Linked DNA regions of Homo sapiens: region 1 is linked to region 2. A link means that fine-mapping ties the variant in region 2 to the expression of a gene that starts in the linked region. Tissue or cell type: whole blood. Region 2 holds a variant in brackets; the other region holds the start of a gene. All regions are shown on one strand. Distances are between the middles of the regions.

The links. PIP is the estimated chance that this variant, and not a neighbour inherited with it, causes the effect.
Region 1: GOLT1A starts here. The variant in region 2 is fine-mapped to the expression of GOLT1A in whole blood (TOPMed, PIP above 0.99).

What each region holds. Positions count from the first base shown.
Region 1 is chr1:204,210,681-204,218,767 of GRCh38, forward strand. It overlaps GOLT1A (golgi transport 1A), which reads right to left and starts at 3,308. Exons shown (of 5, transcript NM_198447.2): 1 at 3,202-3,308. The coding sequence starts at 3,226. RefSeq lists an enhancer at 3,179-3,835.
Region 2 is chr1:204,254,839-204,262,939 of GRCh38, forward strand. PLEKHA6 (pleckstrin homology domain containing A6) reads right to left here. Exons shown (of 23, transcript NM_014935.5): 7 at 6,468-6,610; 8 at 4,420-4,902; 9 at 2,515-3,031. Among named protein-coding and RNA genes, the nearest start is that of GOLT1A, 45 kb to the left of the region's middle. The variant C/T (reference allele first, on the strand shown) is at 3,580.

The sequences.
Region 1 (8,087 bases), 44 kb before region 2:
CCTCCCAAAGTGCTGAGATTACAGGCATGAGCCACCACACCCAGCCTCTCACGTCTTCAAACCTCCCTTGTATGCTGATGACACTGATGTCTCTCTTTCTAGTCCATGCCTCTCTTTGGGCTTTGAAACTCATATCTAGCTGCTTACTTGGCATATCTGCCTGGTTTTCTCTCAGCCATCTTGAACTGGGCTAATCTTCAATCCCAAACTGGTCTATTTATCTTCCCTCCTTCAACTTGTGCCTCCCTTGGTTGTCCTCAAATGAGTAAACATGTCACCACCGCCCACCCCACCACTTAACGCAGAAGCCCACCCCTCCCCCATGAAATCCACAGCTAAGTTTTCTTTTCTTCTTCCAAGATACATGTTGAAAGCTGTCCATTTCTCTCCATTCTTAACACCTAATTCCCGGCCACGATCATCTCTTTCCTGGACGTATGCAGCAGCCCCCATTTGGCCTCCTGCTTTATTCCTGCACCCTCCCAGTCCTTCTCCACACGGCGCTCAAAGGTCTTGCAAAACATACAACCTGATCATGTTAGCATACTGCCTAGACTCCTTCACGGCTGCCCACTGAGATTAGACTGCAGCAGAGCCTTCTCATCCACACCACAGCTCACAGGCCCTGCCTGGTGGGGCCCAGGCCTGCCTGCCCACCTCATCTCCTGCCACTGTCCCTATTGCCTGCCATGCTCCAACCACACTGTTCTCCATGGCTTCCATGTGAGCCCTCTTGACTCAGGGCCTTCGTACATGCAGTTTCCTGGTCTGCAACACCCTGCCTCTCACTTGTTACTTGACAATGCATCCTCATCATTCAGGTCTCAGCTGAAATGTCAGTTGCTCAGGGAAAGCTGGTCCACTCTCTTCCCTGACCTAAATCCCTCATTTCTCTCTCTCACAGGACTTGCTTATCATATTTGGTAAGAGTATATTACTTGCAGGCTAATTGGTTTAACAAAGTGTCAGCGTGCCACTGGGTTGAGGACCCAACCCACCTCTCTCTATATTTTTATTCGCCAGGTCCATGATTCTCAACTGGGCTGAGGGGATTGTGGGTGGGGAAGCGGGGTGCGGGATGGAAATTTGTTTCCCAGGGGACATCTGGCAATGTTTGAAGACATTTTTTATTGTCACAACTTGGAGTGGGGGTGCTACTGGCATGTAGTGGATAGAGGCCAGGGATGCTGCTGATATCCTATAATGTACAGGACAGGCCCCCACAACAAAGAATTATCCTGCCCCAAAATGTCAATAGTGGGGAGGTGAGAAACTGTGCCTGCCCTCGGTGATCTCATGGATGCTCATAGTCCTAAAAACCATGTATATGCAGATTATTCCCACATTTCTGTCTCCAGCCCAGGCCTCTACCTGGAACTCCAGACTCACATACCCAACCACCTACCTGACATCTCACCCGGATGTCTAACAGCACAAACAGACTCAACACATCTAAAGCCCAATTCCTGCTTCCCCCCACTCAACCCTTCCCATTGCACAGGCTAAAAAATATACAAGGCATTCTTGACTCCTCTTTCTCTCACACCCTATGTCCAAACCGTCAGCAAATCCTCAACGCTTTCCTCAAGGCAGATCCAGCATGGACCACGCCCCGCTAATCTCCTGCTAACACCTTGGTCTCCACCTTCACACACTCAGGACTGGCTTCCCTGGCTGGGCGCGGTGGCTCACGCCTGTAATCCCAGCACTTTGGGAGGCTCAGGCAGGTGGATCACTTGAGAAGTCAGGAGTTCGAGACCAACCTGGTAAACGTGGAGAAACCCCATCTCTACTAAAAATACAAAAATTAGCCAGGTGTGGTGGTGGGTGCCCGTAACCCCAGCTACTTAGGAGGCTGAGGCAGGAGAATCGCTTGAACCCAGGAGGTGGAGGTTGCAGTGAGCAGAGATCATGCCACTGTACTCCAACCTGAGCGACAGAGTGAGACTCTGTCTCAAAAAAAAAAAAAAAAAAAAAGAACTGGCTTCCCTGCTGCTGCCTTCATACCTCCACAGTCTATTCTCAACCCAGCACCCAGAATGATCTTTTAAACATAGAAATAGAACATATCACACCATAGCACAAAACCAAGGTCATTACCATGGTCTATAAGTCTCCAGTGTCCTGACCCCTCAGTGACATCCCTGACCTAAACTCCTATGATTCTCCCCTCACCTCACTTTGCTCCAGGTATACCCACCTCCTTGTTGTTCTTCAAACACACCAAGTATGCTAATGCCTCAGGGCCTTTGCACTGCCTGTCCCTGCTTCCTGAACATTTCCCCTCCAGAGAGCTGCGTGGCTTTGCTTCCTCACTTCCTATAGATCTCTGAAAAAAGATCTGAATAAAGGCTCACCTTCTCAGTGAGGCTTCCCTGACCACTCTATATAAAATAGCGACCCCTCCTACCTCGAACTCCATAGCCTCCTCTTGTTTTATTTTCATCTGGAGGACTTATCATCTTCTGATATACTATATACTTCTTTCTGTTAATTACCTGTCTCCCCTCTCTAGAATGTAAGCAGGGAGTCAGTTTCATTTAATGTTGGACACTCTATATCCAACACAGTGCTTGGCACACAGCAGAGACAAATCTGTTGAGTGAACAAAAGAATGTTGTCACCAATTCTCAGATGAAAAACCAAGGCTCAGAGGCTTTAAGTAACTCACCCAAATGAAGCCCACAGAGCCACGGTTCTTCCCATGGCCCCAGACTTGTTCCAAGACCTCCTCCCTACCTCTTCCCCCAAAAGAAGGGGAAGGATGTTTAGGAGTGAGGGTATGGTGGTTTGGTCAGGGGAGTGGAGTTTAGTTTTTTATAAGAAGCCCCCAGGGCCACAGGAGACCTTGATGGTGTGGGGAAAGATGTCTGAATGGGCAGAGGCCTCCTGAGTCCACCTTTGTGGCAACCCAGTTCTAAGAACCCGGGATGGGAAAGGGGTCAGTGTGAATGGGGAACCTGCCAGGCCCCCTGGGCACCAGCCTCTAGCTACCTGTGGGCCCTGAGCAACTCCCACCCGCTGGAGGGTAGGGAGCCACACCCCACCCTGCCTGCTGCCCCAGGGTGCCAGCACAGCATCTCCCAGCCCCTGGCTCCAGAGGTCACGCTTGTAGTGACAGAGAGCCCAGCTGGGAGAGAGAGCCAGCCGGCAGGGAGCCTGGCCTGGATAGCCCATTGCAGCCCCGCTCATCCCACTTACTCTGCCATTCGGTGATGGAGATCATGCCGCACTCAGCCTGGGGGGCTTTCCGGGTGGAAGCGGGCAAGTGGAGCGTGGCCCAGAGGACGCAGCTGGTACATGGTCACGGGAAGCTGACCCTTGGTTAAGTTGCGAAATGAGCCTGTGGCAAATCATTAACTCTCCCTCCAGCCCCCGCTCCACCCCCGCACACCACGCAGGTGCTTCTACTCGCCAGCTCCCTCCTCCCGTTTTCCGGTAGGGCAATGCCCCGCCCCTCCACCTGCCGCGCCTGCCCGGGGAAGGCACCGCCCACCTGACCCTTTCCTCGCACCTCGCGGTGTTCTGCGGCTCTCGTCTGCTCCGCGAAACTTAGATTGTATGTGGAAGCATTGGAATCTAGGGGGTGCTCAAGTTTCTTGCTTGGTTTGATAGTGTGGGAAGAGTTGGCATCTGCGCATCCCTTTGGGAATGTACTAAATTCATCTTGAAAGTCAAGCTTTTTGCTCTCTGCTATTGCACATGCTAGGCGCTGGGAGGCGATGAGCGACTGAGCACAAAGCCTGTTGTTGACCTAATGGCAGAGCCAGATCGGGTTAAATCAATGGCAAAAGCGCCATGGGGGAAGTTAGACGTGAAGGTCTTCGACCTCCTTTCCCCAAGCGGCGTCCAAGCTTTGGACTGACTGTGATGTTGAGCTATGGAAGACAAAGCCCTGAATTTGGGGTTGGGGCAGGACTGCACAATTTAGGAGGCCTGGTTCTAGTCTACCCACCAGCTGTGTAGACATGGATTCGTCCTTTGGGCCTGCAAAAAGAGAGGCAGTTAGTTCCTAACATCCTTTTTTCCCATCGCAGAGCAGTGGTTCTGACGTGGCATTGATGCCAGGAGAGCCAACATCCACTTTGCAATGTCTTCTGTGTCCAGAAATGAAGAAATGAATTTCAAAGACTACCTATATACATCATTTAAAAATGCAAATAGGCCTGGCATACAAAATGCATTATGTCTGTAATCCCAGCATTTTGGGAGGCCAAGGCAGGAGGATTGCTTGAGCCCAGGAGTTTGAGACCAGCCTGAGCAACATAGTGAGACCTTGTCTCTACAATAATAAAAATAAAAAATTAGCCGGATGTGGTGGTACCTGCCTGTAGTCCCAGCTACTGGGGAGGCTAAGGTAGGAGGATTGCTTGAGCCCAGAAGGTCGAGGCTGCGATGAGCTGTGATCAAGCCATGCACTCCAGCCTGGGTAGCAGAGCGAGATCCTGTCTCAAAAAAAAACAAACCAAACAACAACAACAAAACCAAGGAAAGCTAACATAATTTTTTAAAAAGAAACAAAAAGATAAATTATAATAAAACATGATGTCTTTCAATATATAAATGTTCAGGCAAGACTTACCAGAAGACATAAATGAAATAGGCAGATTGCTTGCACCCACACATAATATATGTTTGAATTTAAGAGAAATAGAAGATGAGCCATTCTATGCAAAAACAAAAATCACACACATGCAAGAAAATGAAAGAGTAGCAGGAAGTGAACATAGAATAAAAACTGTTAGATAAGGAATAACAGACCAGACGTACTTGCATATGATGAGAGGGAAAGCATCTTAATTGAAATAGGGATAACATAGCAAGGCAAATTAGAGAGCACAAGGTGGAGATAATATAGAAGTATGATGTGCATGCAAAGGAACTCAGTCTTAGGTATGTGTGTATTGTCAAAATAGCTCCCATGGAATGGGGTCGCCATAGAGTACCACAGACACATCAACCTCTGTCTTGAAACATATCAGCGTTGAGGTAAAATTCAGTCTCTGGGATCTTAAAAGGCCTTAGAGATCACATATTTCCAATGGGCAATGGGGGATAGAGGATGGATTGGGAAAAGAAAAGAAGATAAAAGTGGTTTAGAGCAATTGCATGTGGACACCCGGGACAGTGTTGTAAAGACAGGACACAACATTTCCACACATAATTATGACAACATAGCATCCTTGGGCTCCAAAAAAACTAAACATATAAAGGATGGCAATAATATGAAATAAACCCTAAAAACTTTTATTAAGGAAACTCAGTGAGATCTTCTGCATCTCAAGTGTCTCTGATTCCATGTTTGCTTCTCTCACATATCCTCTGTTAAATATTTTCAGTCAATTTCTTCGTTTATTCAGTATCACCTACTGATCAGAACTGTTTTCAATCAAATACATAGTAGCTGAAATCTTATAATCCTTTGTGTAGACAATGCATGGAGTAGATTATTCAATAATTTTAAGACAATGTCTTTATTCCTTTTAAGCTTCTGCTCCATAATAACCATCTCCTAACTTTCTGAGTGTTCATGAAATTTATTTTTAAAAGCTTACAAAACCTTTTGGTATTACTGTCAATTGAAGTATGACCAACTTTTACTGGTAGTGGGTTTAGTTCAGTTGTACATTCGAAAGTAGTACAGGATATGGGACAATTCTTTGTTTTGGAAATCTGTCCTGTGCATTGCAGTCTCGAAATGCCAGCAAGAGTTTTGCACCCTTATGATTGAGACAACCAAATGCCCCTAGGGGCCAGAATCATCCCTGTTGAAATCACTCGTAGGTTAAGAGCTTCATCCTGGCTTCGTGAAGCCTTGGGCATTTTATTTATCCTTTCTGTGCCTCAGCTTCTTGGATAATTATAGTACCTATGACTGACATAGAGGATGAGGATTCATGAGTAAATGCATGTGAAGTGCATAGAACCAGGTACCTGGCACATAGTAAGCACTTAATGAACCACTGTTATTCCTGTTACTGTATAGTTATAATAATTACTATTGTTATTAATGTTATTATTAGTATACTGTTAATATGCTTTATATGAAAGACTTCTACTGTCATCTCAAATTGTGGTGCTAAACCACTCCCGCAGGTGTATAAAATAGCAACTGGGGATGCCCCTTCCTGCCCCCACCCCCAGCCATGGAACCCACCTGTGAGCTCAGGAGAATTAAACGCTCATGATACTGGGCCCTCCGGGCCTGATTCTCTGGGTACTGGAGCTAAGCCCAGAGGCGCTGTCCACAACTCATCCTTCTGGAGAGGGACCTTCATAGGGACAACGCCGGGAAGGCTGGTGCTAGTCCTCGACCCATGGCAGTCTCATGACCCTGCCATGATGAGAAAAGTGTGGGGTAGTGCAGTTACTCCCTGGGCTGGAGGCATAGAAGTGGCAGGGGAGGGACACCTCAGGGATGGCACGGGCCCTGGTGATGTCTTCCAGCAAAGGCTGTAGAGCTAGTAAAGGAGGGGTCCTGGAAAACCTTCTCCCTCTTCCCACATCAGGCCCCTGCAGGTGGCCAGGGAGCCTTTGCAACATCACCACTTCCACTTCCTCACATTTGGAAGTGAATTTGAGTTTTCAAAGTGATTTTCATCCATTTTCTCATTTGTCTTTCTTGAAAGTTCCATAAGATGGTGGTTAATATACCCATTTTCCAGATGAGGGAACTGAGACTCAAGAATTTAATGACTTGTCCAAATCTTCATGCAGCTAGCAAGGAGCATGTTGCTAGGGGCAGGAGTTGAGGATGACATGCCACCTTCTCTCATTGGTCTCAGTAACGAGGTGAGGCTCGGGATGAGGAGGGGGACGTGGCGTGGCCCCAGTTCCCTGGCAGCAGCAGGGTCTGAGGCTTGGCTGCCTGCCTGACCCTGTCGTGCCTGTCTTCAAGAATAAATAAGTGATCATGCAGTTACACAGCTCTGCTCCTTAAAGGACATTCTGCTATTGCATTTTCATTTACATTTCTCAGCTACTACCCCCTTTTTACAAATCCCAACCTGGCTTGATCTGGTAGGGGATGGAGCAGGCACCAGCTGGCATCATCTCTTGAGAGGAGGAGGCAGCCCTTGTCGGTGGATGCAGTGATGCCCGGTGGTACTCTGTGGTCTCACATTCCACCTCCTCCCCAAGCCCTTGCCACTGGCTCTGGCTCAGATGGAGCCTGAAGATAAAGGCTCAGCCCCCCAGAAAGTGACGAGTTCTCCAATATGCATCCCCCTACCCCAGCCTCTGATGCAGGCCCTCCCCCAGAGCCTACATCTGGTCACAACTCTCCCGGGTTCACAAAGGACATCATCCTGGGGATGTGACAAAATCCAAAATAGAGTCGAATCTTAAAAATGACCTCCCCCGTACTAGCCCTTAGAAATGGGAACAGGTGTCCAGAATTCAGCTTCAGCCATGAAAGCCAAGCCGATGCAAGATCAGGAATTAGAGGAAGCTTGCTTTCTCATCTCTCCTTCTCGCTTTTTCTTGAGCCATCCCTCCCTCGGACAACATGCAGAAGCCCCGCTGAGCCTGCCAGTCTCCCGGGCGCACCTCTTCTCTTCCACTACCCACCCCACAAAATTTACCAGGCTTCTTGACTCTTGGTCCCCACAGTAAGATTCCAAATTGAGAAGCACTGGTAAAGCCCTTCACACAGAGTGTCAATACCTGATAACCACAAAACACCTGCCAAGAGAAATAAACCAAAGGGATGGAGGCAGAATGAGAACTGGGGTGGTCTCATACCTCCCACCAAATTATACAACTTCTTGTAAAGCAGCAATATAGCGCATTGTGTAGTAATCAAGAAAGGCTGGGAATTCATTCTCTTCTCCTGCTGTCCTGTCCTTTGTATGAGTCAAACCAAGGGAAGGTGCCAGGGCCTGAAGCATCTGATACTGCCATTATACAGAACCTTGGGGCAAACCCTGATCTGGGGTCACCTGAACTGAAATGATGATGCTGGTGTTGGTAGCATACCCTCGCTTCCCCAGCTCCTGGGGATGGAGGCCAAAAAGTGCAGGCTGAGGCACAGGGGAGGAAGGAGCACATGTTTTACACCCAGCCTACCTCCCAGCCCCCATTCCCCT
Region 2 (8,101 bases):
AGCACAGATCTAAACTTAAGAGTATGTGCTTATATAAATACCCAGCATATTGACCCCCAGCCTGTCTAAACTCAGTCTCACAGCTCCCTTAGCTTAAAAGACAAGAAAGGGTTAGAACCCCGGAGCAGAGACCAGGCAGCCACTGCTTGCAGCTCATGGAACATTCACTGCCTCTTCAGCTTGCTCACCTGTAAAACTGGGTTGATAATACTCCCTCTGTTTGCACTGAATTCTCAGGAATGCACGAGCTGTTTATGCAAAAGGGCTTTTGGAGGAACTAATGAATACACTGAGTGAATATTACTTTAAAAATCATCCTAGGGAGGGTCTGCAGGCCTCAGTTTACCAATTATGGAGTTTAACAACAACCTGTAAAATATGATAAGATGATTTCCCAGATTCAGGCTGAACTAAATCCCTAGCATTTTAGGCCCAGCCTAGAGCTCCCTCGACTCTGCGACTCCCTCCTCTCGCCAGAAAAAATGCAAATTCCCACCTGCCCCCTGGGGGCAGTTCCATCTGAGCTGAGCACTGGAGAAATAAGAGGTGGCATTAATTATTCATGTGCCTACTTATTATGCTTCTTTCCCCAGGAAACTCCCAGCTGTCCTAAAGGGCTTTGAAGAGAAGGGGTGTGTAGGCGCAAACCAAAACATAAGCCACTTTGTTGTGTCCTGCTTGCACCAACAAAGGTTGTCAAATGGCTGGAAGATGAGGAGGTGGGGAGGAGTGGAGAGATGCGACAGGAAGGCAGTGGGATGATAAGGGGGGCACCAGCTCTGCCTACCTGCTGATCCAAATACTCTAGGTTTCTTTGCAACTGAAGATCTAAAAGTTCATCCTACCCGGAGCCCGAGGCCCAGAGGCCAAACAGCAACACAAACAAACAGGAACACACAAAAGAAAACAATAAAAAAAGAAGCAAAGCAGTTAAGAGTTAGCGACAAGGACAAGGAGAGGCTTCTCCCTCTGCCCTTGAGGAGTTCTCAGGAAGGGAGGGGTTGAGGATGTGGGCAGGCAAAGTAGTTCTCTACTGGACACTCCAGGAGAGGAGGGGCACACGCAGACCCCAGTGCCATCTCTCCTAGGTCTGCCTAGGCCTCCCTGGGAGAGGTGAGTGTCATCAGAGCAATTTAGGCAGCACTTGTTAGCAGCTGTTTCTGAGTTTTCTGGAAAAATCGGTTGTTTCTGGGTGCGTGTGTTTGCTGTGGGCAAAGCTTATATGCTGTGGACACTGGCAGAGTGAGAATCAGACAGAGAGGGGAAGGAGCAGCCGCCTAGCCTCCAGCCTGCCCAGCCCTCCTCCACTCTGGCCTCCTGGTACTGTTATGGAAATGAGTCAGCAACAGGCTTTCTGGAAAAGGATTCTGCCTGTTGGTCCCAGTGGTCCTCCCCAACCCTCCCAAGTGGAGCATCTTATCTAGGTCTCTAGGTGGTGGCAAAAGTTCTCAGGAGAACAAATTCCAGGGAGAGACACGAGTAGAAAGAGGCAGAGAAAAAGGAGGAGATGCAATTCGGAAAATTTTTTCTTCCTCAATCATATCGCTTGTATCTCTCCCCAAAAGTGGCATTCCAGGCAAAGGACAAACATGAAATAACTATGCTTCAGGGGAAAAAAGTTTAGAAGATCTTGCTTCTTGTTAGGAGCTCTGGCCTGATTTTTCCTGCCTAGGCCCCTTCTCCTGCATGCTGGAGAGGAGAGGGACCAGGATATTACATGCTCCCAGATCTCATCCCTCCTCCACGGGCTGTGTCACAGAGGAGAAGGGGTTATTGGCACCAAACTTGATACTGGGGCTAGAGTCCTGGCTGGGAGGGAGGAGGTATCCAGAGGCTGCTAAAAACCAGCCAGGCCAGGCACTAGGCACAGAGCGTCCCTGGAGTCCGCCCCAGTTTAGCTCCACCCTGAGTGGAGCACGGTGCGGGGAGGCCCTGAGACAGGTGGAGGGGAGAAAGGACGTACCATCTTATCGTGGACCGTGGGGGATGGTGGGTAGTTGTAGGGGAACAGTCCTGCAGGGACTGGCCGCCTGTCTCCCAGGTAATCATACTGGAAGAGAAAGGGATCGCAGAGGTGAGGGGTCTGGCTGGGACACGGAGTTCCCCAACAGCTGAAGCTCAAGGTTAGAGGTATTTGTGTTCAGTTCCCAGAGCAGATCCCAAACTGAAATGGACAGCAGCCCCCCTTGCAATGATCTGTCCAGGTCCTCAAGATTTGAAAAGACAGAACCCTCTCTGCCCTCTTATATGACGGCATGGTATCTGGCACAACTTGGGGGCATGTACAGAAAGCAATGTCCCCACTCAAGAGGCAAAGCCATCCCCAAGACAGCTCTCCTACAGACAGAACCACAGGCCAGGGGCTCCGCTGGGCAGCACTGCTGGTCCTGCAGACAAACGGCCCAGTGGCCCCGTGGCACAGATGCTCCCACATCTCTGCCTTTTCTCAGTAGATGGTCTTAGGCTTCTGGGGACCTCAGGGGATGAGGAAGGAAGGGCAGGCTGGTGGCTCACCTTGGGGGAGCTGATGGATCGCCTCATCACATAGGCAGCAGGGTCAGCATAGATGTCCTCACTGCGAGGTGGCAGCCGCTCAAAACGGGCACTGGGTGAGCGGACAGGGGAGTAAATGCGGGCACGGCTGTAGGAGCCCTGGCTGGGTGAGCGGGGCACAGAGTGGGAGCGGGGCTGCAGGGACAGGCGGCGCAGGGAGCTAGAGGCGGCATCCAGCTCATCATAATAGACTGGCTGCCGGGAGGGGCTTGGGATCCAGACGGTGGCATCCTGCCGCCCGTAGCTGGCGGGCTCCTTCCACTCTCGCAGCTGGTAGGCAGGGCCACCCCCATTGCGGAAGGCATGGCGCTTGTCCTCCAGGGCCCAGGGCGGGCTGATCCGATCATAGGCCGGCATGGAACAGATGCTCTCCGGCCGCACTCCTGGCGGGTAGTACTGATAATCATCGGGGTACTGGGAGGAGTAGGGGCCATAGTACTCAGGGACCCTGCGAGACACAGGATAGAACCTAGAGGGACTGAGAGAGAGGGGACATTGTAATGAAGGCAGACAACACGGGCACCCCTCCACCCACCCCAGCCCCACCTCCAGGTCCCCCAGCCTAGAGCAGGGTGCTTGAATAGGTACACAGGGGCTGAGGTTTATTCCAGAGATGAGGGAAAGACTCCTGTCCTCACAGCCCCCCTCCTCAAACAACTCCCCAAGGCTGGACACTGCACCATTCAGAGCTTCAATCTTTGCCTCTTTAAAATGACATATCCCTAGGAAGAAACGTGAAGCCTTATCAGCCATCTCCATCTCAGCATGAACCAGTTTATCAGATCTTTTCTGAGAGAGGCAAATAGAAGAAAGTCTACCAGGCACCTGAAGGAGGGCAATGTAGGAGGGATGAAAGAAAGGGCGGCTTCCTGATCTATTTTATATTATTTTAGAGATGAGGTCCATTCTGTCACCAGCCTGGAATACAGTGGGGCCATCAAGGCTCACTGCAGCCTTGAACTCCTGGGCTCAAGCAATCCTCCCACATCCACCTGTAGAGTAGTAGCTGGGACCACAGGTGTGAGC[C/T]ACCATGCCCAGCTTCCTGACTGTATGATCTTGTCAGGGACAGAACCAGTAGATTCTTGGGACTCATCCCAAGTGGTTCTCCCCAGAGCAGGCCTGATGCTCCCAGGCACCAGACCACCAGCAATGCGCAGCCGCTCAGGCCACTAGAGGGCAGGTTCCTCCCGGGCCCCATGGCCTTCCTGAAGCTGTGGCCTGCAGTCCCTGGAGCTGCCCAAATCCCCAGGGAAGGAGCCTGCAGCCCATTTGCCCTGAGGGACACCATTGGGCCCAATAAATGTCCCCAGATATTTCAAAGTCAGTCATTGGATAAAGGCGTAAATGGTCATAGATGGCCATGTTGGGACCAATGAGCTACTTTGTTTTGTTTTTTAACTTCATATAAATCATGGCTTTAAAACAATTAGAGTTGTTCAAAAATGGAATGAGTTGGTCTGGCAGTTAGTGAGTCTCAAGTGGGTGGAGCACTGGGGAGAGGATGTTGTAGGAGGGCCCATAGCTTGGATGGATGTATGACTATAACAACTTCAGGCCCCCTCCCAAAGCCTGCTGTGTTCTGGGCTCCCCAGCACGCCGTGGAGAGGCACTGGGGCACTCTGTCCCTTCTTCTGAAGGAAGCAGACAAAGAAACCAAGAATCAGGGACAGCAGCCAGACTCTAATGGTGGAGCCATGGGGCAGGCAGGATTTGGGCAAGCCAGGAAGCATGGGATTTGCTTGGTTTCCCAACTCAGCCTGCTTCCAGAAGGTTTCCAACAGGGGATGCCTCGTGGGCTATGACCCCACTCGCACGCTCTAGCCATAATACCATATCAGCCCCACCCCAGCCGCCGGCATGCCTCACCTCCGAAGGTCTTCAGGCGGGGGTACCCCCCGGCGCAGATTCACCCACTGCTGAAGCTGGTTCATGGAGCTCTTGCGCTGGGCAATTTTGTCAGGGTTGGTGCGTGGTGGGAAACTCCGCCGGTGTCCCCCAGTCTCTCCATCCTGAGACGGGAAAGCTGTGCTCCCTGGCCGGCTTGGGGAGTGGTACTGCCAGCCATTGGGCTGGGCAGGCTGTTCCCCACCCCCTGGCACTCTTGGGCCCTCGGGGTAAGGGCTGCCCGGCTCTGAGGCTGGCTCCGGTCCAGCTGGGAGGCCATTGGCTTTCACCGGAGGCTCTTTCTTGACTTCTGGCCTCTCAGGCCTTCTCTCTGCCTTCTCACAGCCTCGGCCATCACCCTCCCCTCGAGTCTTGGCCTCTGGCTCAGGCTTAGGGAGGCTGTTGTGGGGTGGCTGCTGGTGGTGCTTGCTGGGTGGGACGTTCTCCGAGTCTGGCTTCTCATGGCTGCAGGATGCCAAGGGAGATGCTGTCAGTGACTCTAGCCCAGCATGGAGTGGGGCAGGGGGTGCCAGACTGGGAAGAAGAGGAGTGGGGAAGGATGGGCAGGGAGGTGGCTGGAACCAGGATTCTATGAACTCCAGTTCTGCTTCCTAAGTCCCACCCCTTCACCTTCTCGCTCCAGCCTGGGAAATTATTATACAACCTAATCCGCCCCTGCCCACACCTGCTGTGTTAACTCTGCCCCCCACGTCTTCTCTGCAGGTCATTCTCCACCCCACTCCCCTCTGTCAGTCTGCTTTGAGCCCAGCCTTCAAGCTATGGCATGACTAACCTCACCTAGTCTTGGTCCTCTCTGCGATCTATCCCTGACCCAGCTCCCCAAACTGGGTTTGCACTCACATCAGTAACTGTCCTTGATACTCCAGTGACAAAGGCTTGTCACGGGGCAGCTGTCTTTCTTATAGAAAGTTATTTAACTGCCAAGAGTCTTGGGCTCCTCATCAGCAGAATGGGCATAATAATAGCTCCCCTCCTAGGACTGCTGTGAGATAAAACATGGCGGGCACCAGGAGCAGAAGTTTCTGCTTTCAAACTCACAAGCACATAAACACGCTAGTTCCCTTCTCCAAAACACATTTCTTCCAGGACTGACTTTCCATGAGAATACAGGCCCCACAAGGGTAGGAACATGGCAGACTTTCTTCCCCTGTGTTCCTAGCACCCACTACAGTGCCTTGCACATTTATATTTACAGTAAGTATTTGTGAAATGAATGAATGAACTCTTGGAATTATGCCCCTTGGTTGAAGCGAAGATGGAAATTTGTGACAATTTTCCCCCTACAGCTTCCCAAACTCCACATATTCAAGTGGGATTGTTGAAACATTGCTTGGTAAACATTTCTAAGATATGTGGACTTGGAGCCTACACTGTGAAACCCCCTTTTCCTGGATCCCCCTTAGCACCTAACTCAAGACTCCACATCCAGTTAAGGGAGAGACAGACGCTGAGACCGTGGGTGACGGCGGGCGATGGGAGCGGCCATATGTTAAGAGTTTACTGCATGTTGAGTGTTTTACACGCACTCTGTGTAGGCCTCACAACAACCCTATGAGGTAGAGTTGTATTTGCTGGTTTTTGAGCAGAGGAACCTCGGGTTCAGAGAGGGTGAGTCCCTTGCACTGAGATCACGCTACAGCCAAGTGGACAAGGTGTGATTCAAACCTGAGTTTATTTTCCTCCAAAGGCGGTGTGCTTAACACACACAGCCGAGAAAAACCAGCAAATGACCCTGACCTCTGGCTCCTGGCCAGACCCCAATGGAACCTGGCTTTTCTCTTGGCCTTCCCGAGCTCAGAGAGAAGAGGAGGAGCTGGCTAGGGGAAGAGAGACTTCAGGCTCTGAAATCACTCAGCCAGGCCTCCCGCCTGGATGCAAGGAGACGGCTCACACATTCTCCAGGGCTTCAAGTAGGCACACTGGGATTAGCAATGGCCCAGAGCTGGGTGTGTCTTCCATTCCCCTCTTTATTCTTCCTGCACCCCCACACTCAATTCCCTGGCACTCACCTGTGCCGCACAGCTTGGGGCACTGACTTCTGGGCTGGAGGGATCTGTACTCGAGCAGCCTCCCCCATGGCCTGGATCCAGGCCTCTTGCTCCTCGGGGCTCTCGGCACTGAAGAAGTAGGTGCGGACCCCGGCATGCTCAGCCTGTGGGGAGAGGCAGCGTGTGGAGCTGGCCTCGGCCTCATCCACCCAGCACACAGTCACCTGTTGGGAGAAGACACCAACGCCCACAGAATGGGCAGTCAGTTGGGCCATTCCCTGCACCTGGGGCTCTTCCCCATGCGGAGCTCAGGAGCAAGGTGAAGAGGGCAGCTTGCAGCTACCCCGAGGGTTCCAGCTGGTACCCACGTATCCACCTTGGCTGGCTCTCTGGGCACCATTAGGCAGCCCAATAACCAGGTCAGCCTACTTGCCCCACCTGGGGTAATTAAAGCAGGAGGGACAATGATCACACCCATTCTCCCGGCAAATTCCATGTTTGATTTCAAAGGCAATGACCCCATGTCTGGGAGAGAGGACCCCCTGAGCACATGCCAATCTTAGCCCCAGCTTCACTGCTGAGAAGCTAGCACTGTCTCTTCCACGTGGAGAGACAGCCAAGCCCCTCTCTGCAGGCATGCAAAGCAGGCACTGGCATACAGATGGGGCACACTACCTAGTTGGTGGCTGCGAGCAGGTACTGCGGGCGGGAACCCAGAAGAGAGCTCCTGTCCAGAGGAGGGGTCCTCACGCGGTCAGAAGGAGGAGAAGCAGAGAACAGGTCAACCAAACACCAAAGGGAGAGACAGAAGACGACGTGGCAGGAAACGGTGAGGAGCACAGGGAAGGGGGAATATTCAGATTGTCCTCTTCTACTCAGCATTCCCCCGGGAATGGCAGCACCCAACAATGCCCAGTTCTGCCTACCAAGGGGTGGGGAGTGGAGAGCTTGCACCAGGGAAATTCAGGCTGGTGGTGGAGAGTGAGTCAGGGAATCGCAGTGCTAAGCCTGGCTCTGCTCCTGACCAGCTCTGCAACTGCAGACAAGTTGTGGTTTTGCTCTGGTCTTCACTGATGCATCTATTTCACGGGAAAAGAGTCTGCCTGGTGAAATTCAAAGTTCTTAGGCCACAAGGAAAAGAGGCCACAGGACTAAATGCTTTCTGGGACCTCAGCACACTTCCCAGTGAGATCCTCAGTAGCCTAGCTTAGCCCACTCAACAGGGGACATCTAGCAGTGATTCAGAGTCTCGGATGTGAGCCTCACTCCAGCCTCTGACCCCTTGAGCCCTAAATCCTGGGTCTCTGGGGGTTGAGATAGCTTCAGGGCTCCCCTGAACAGCAACGTCAAGCCCACACCCTCTAAATGCTCAAAAGATTCCTCAGCTGCAGCTGGTCCCACCTCGCCTCCACCTGTCCCCAGCCCTCATTTTCTTTCTGACAGGAGCCATTACCCAGCAAGAGGCAGGGGTGGGCCTCCTTCCTCTGGTCCCCACCCTCCAGCAGAGGGCTTAGCATGTAGGTGTGGGAGAGGGCAGGGGAGGTGTTGACAAAAAGCCAGTGAAGACTAAGAAGCTGAGACTTGCGACGGATAGGGGATAGAGAGACCAGGGGCCCAAGCAAGCCTTCTAGGTGGAGAACACAGGGTTATTGTAG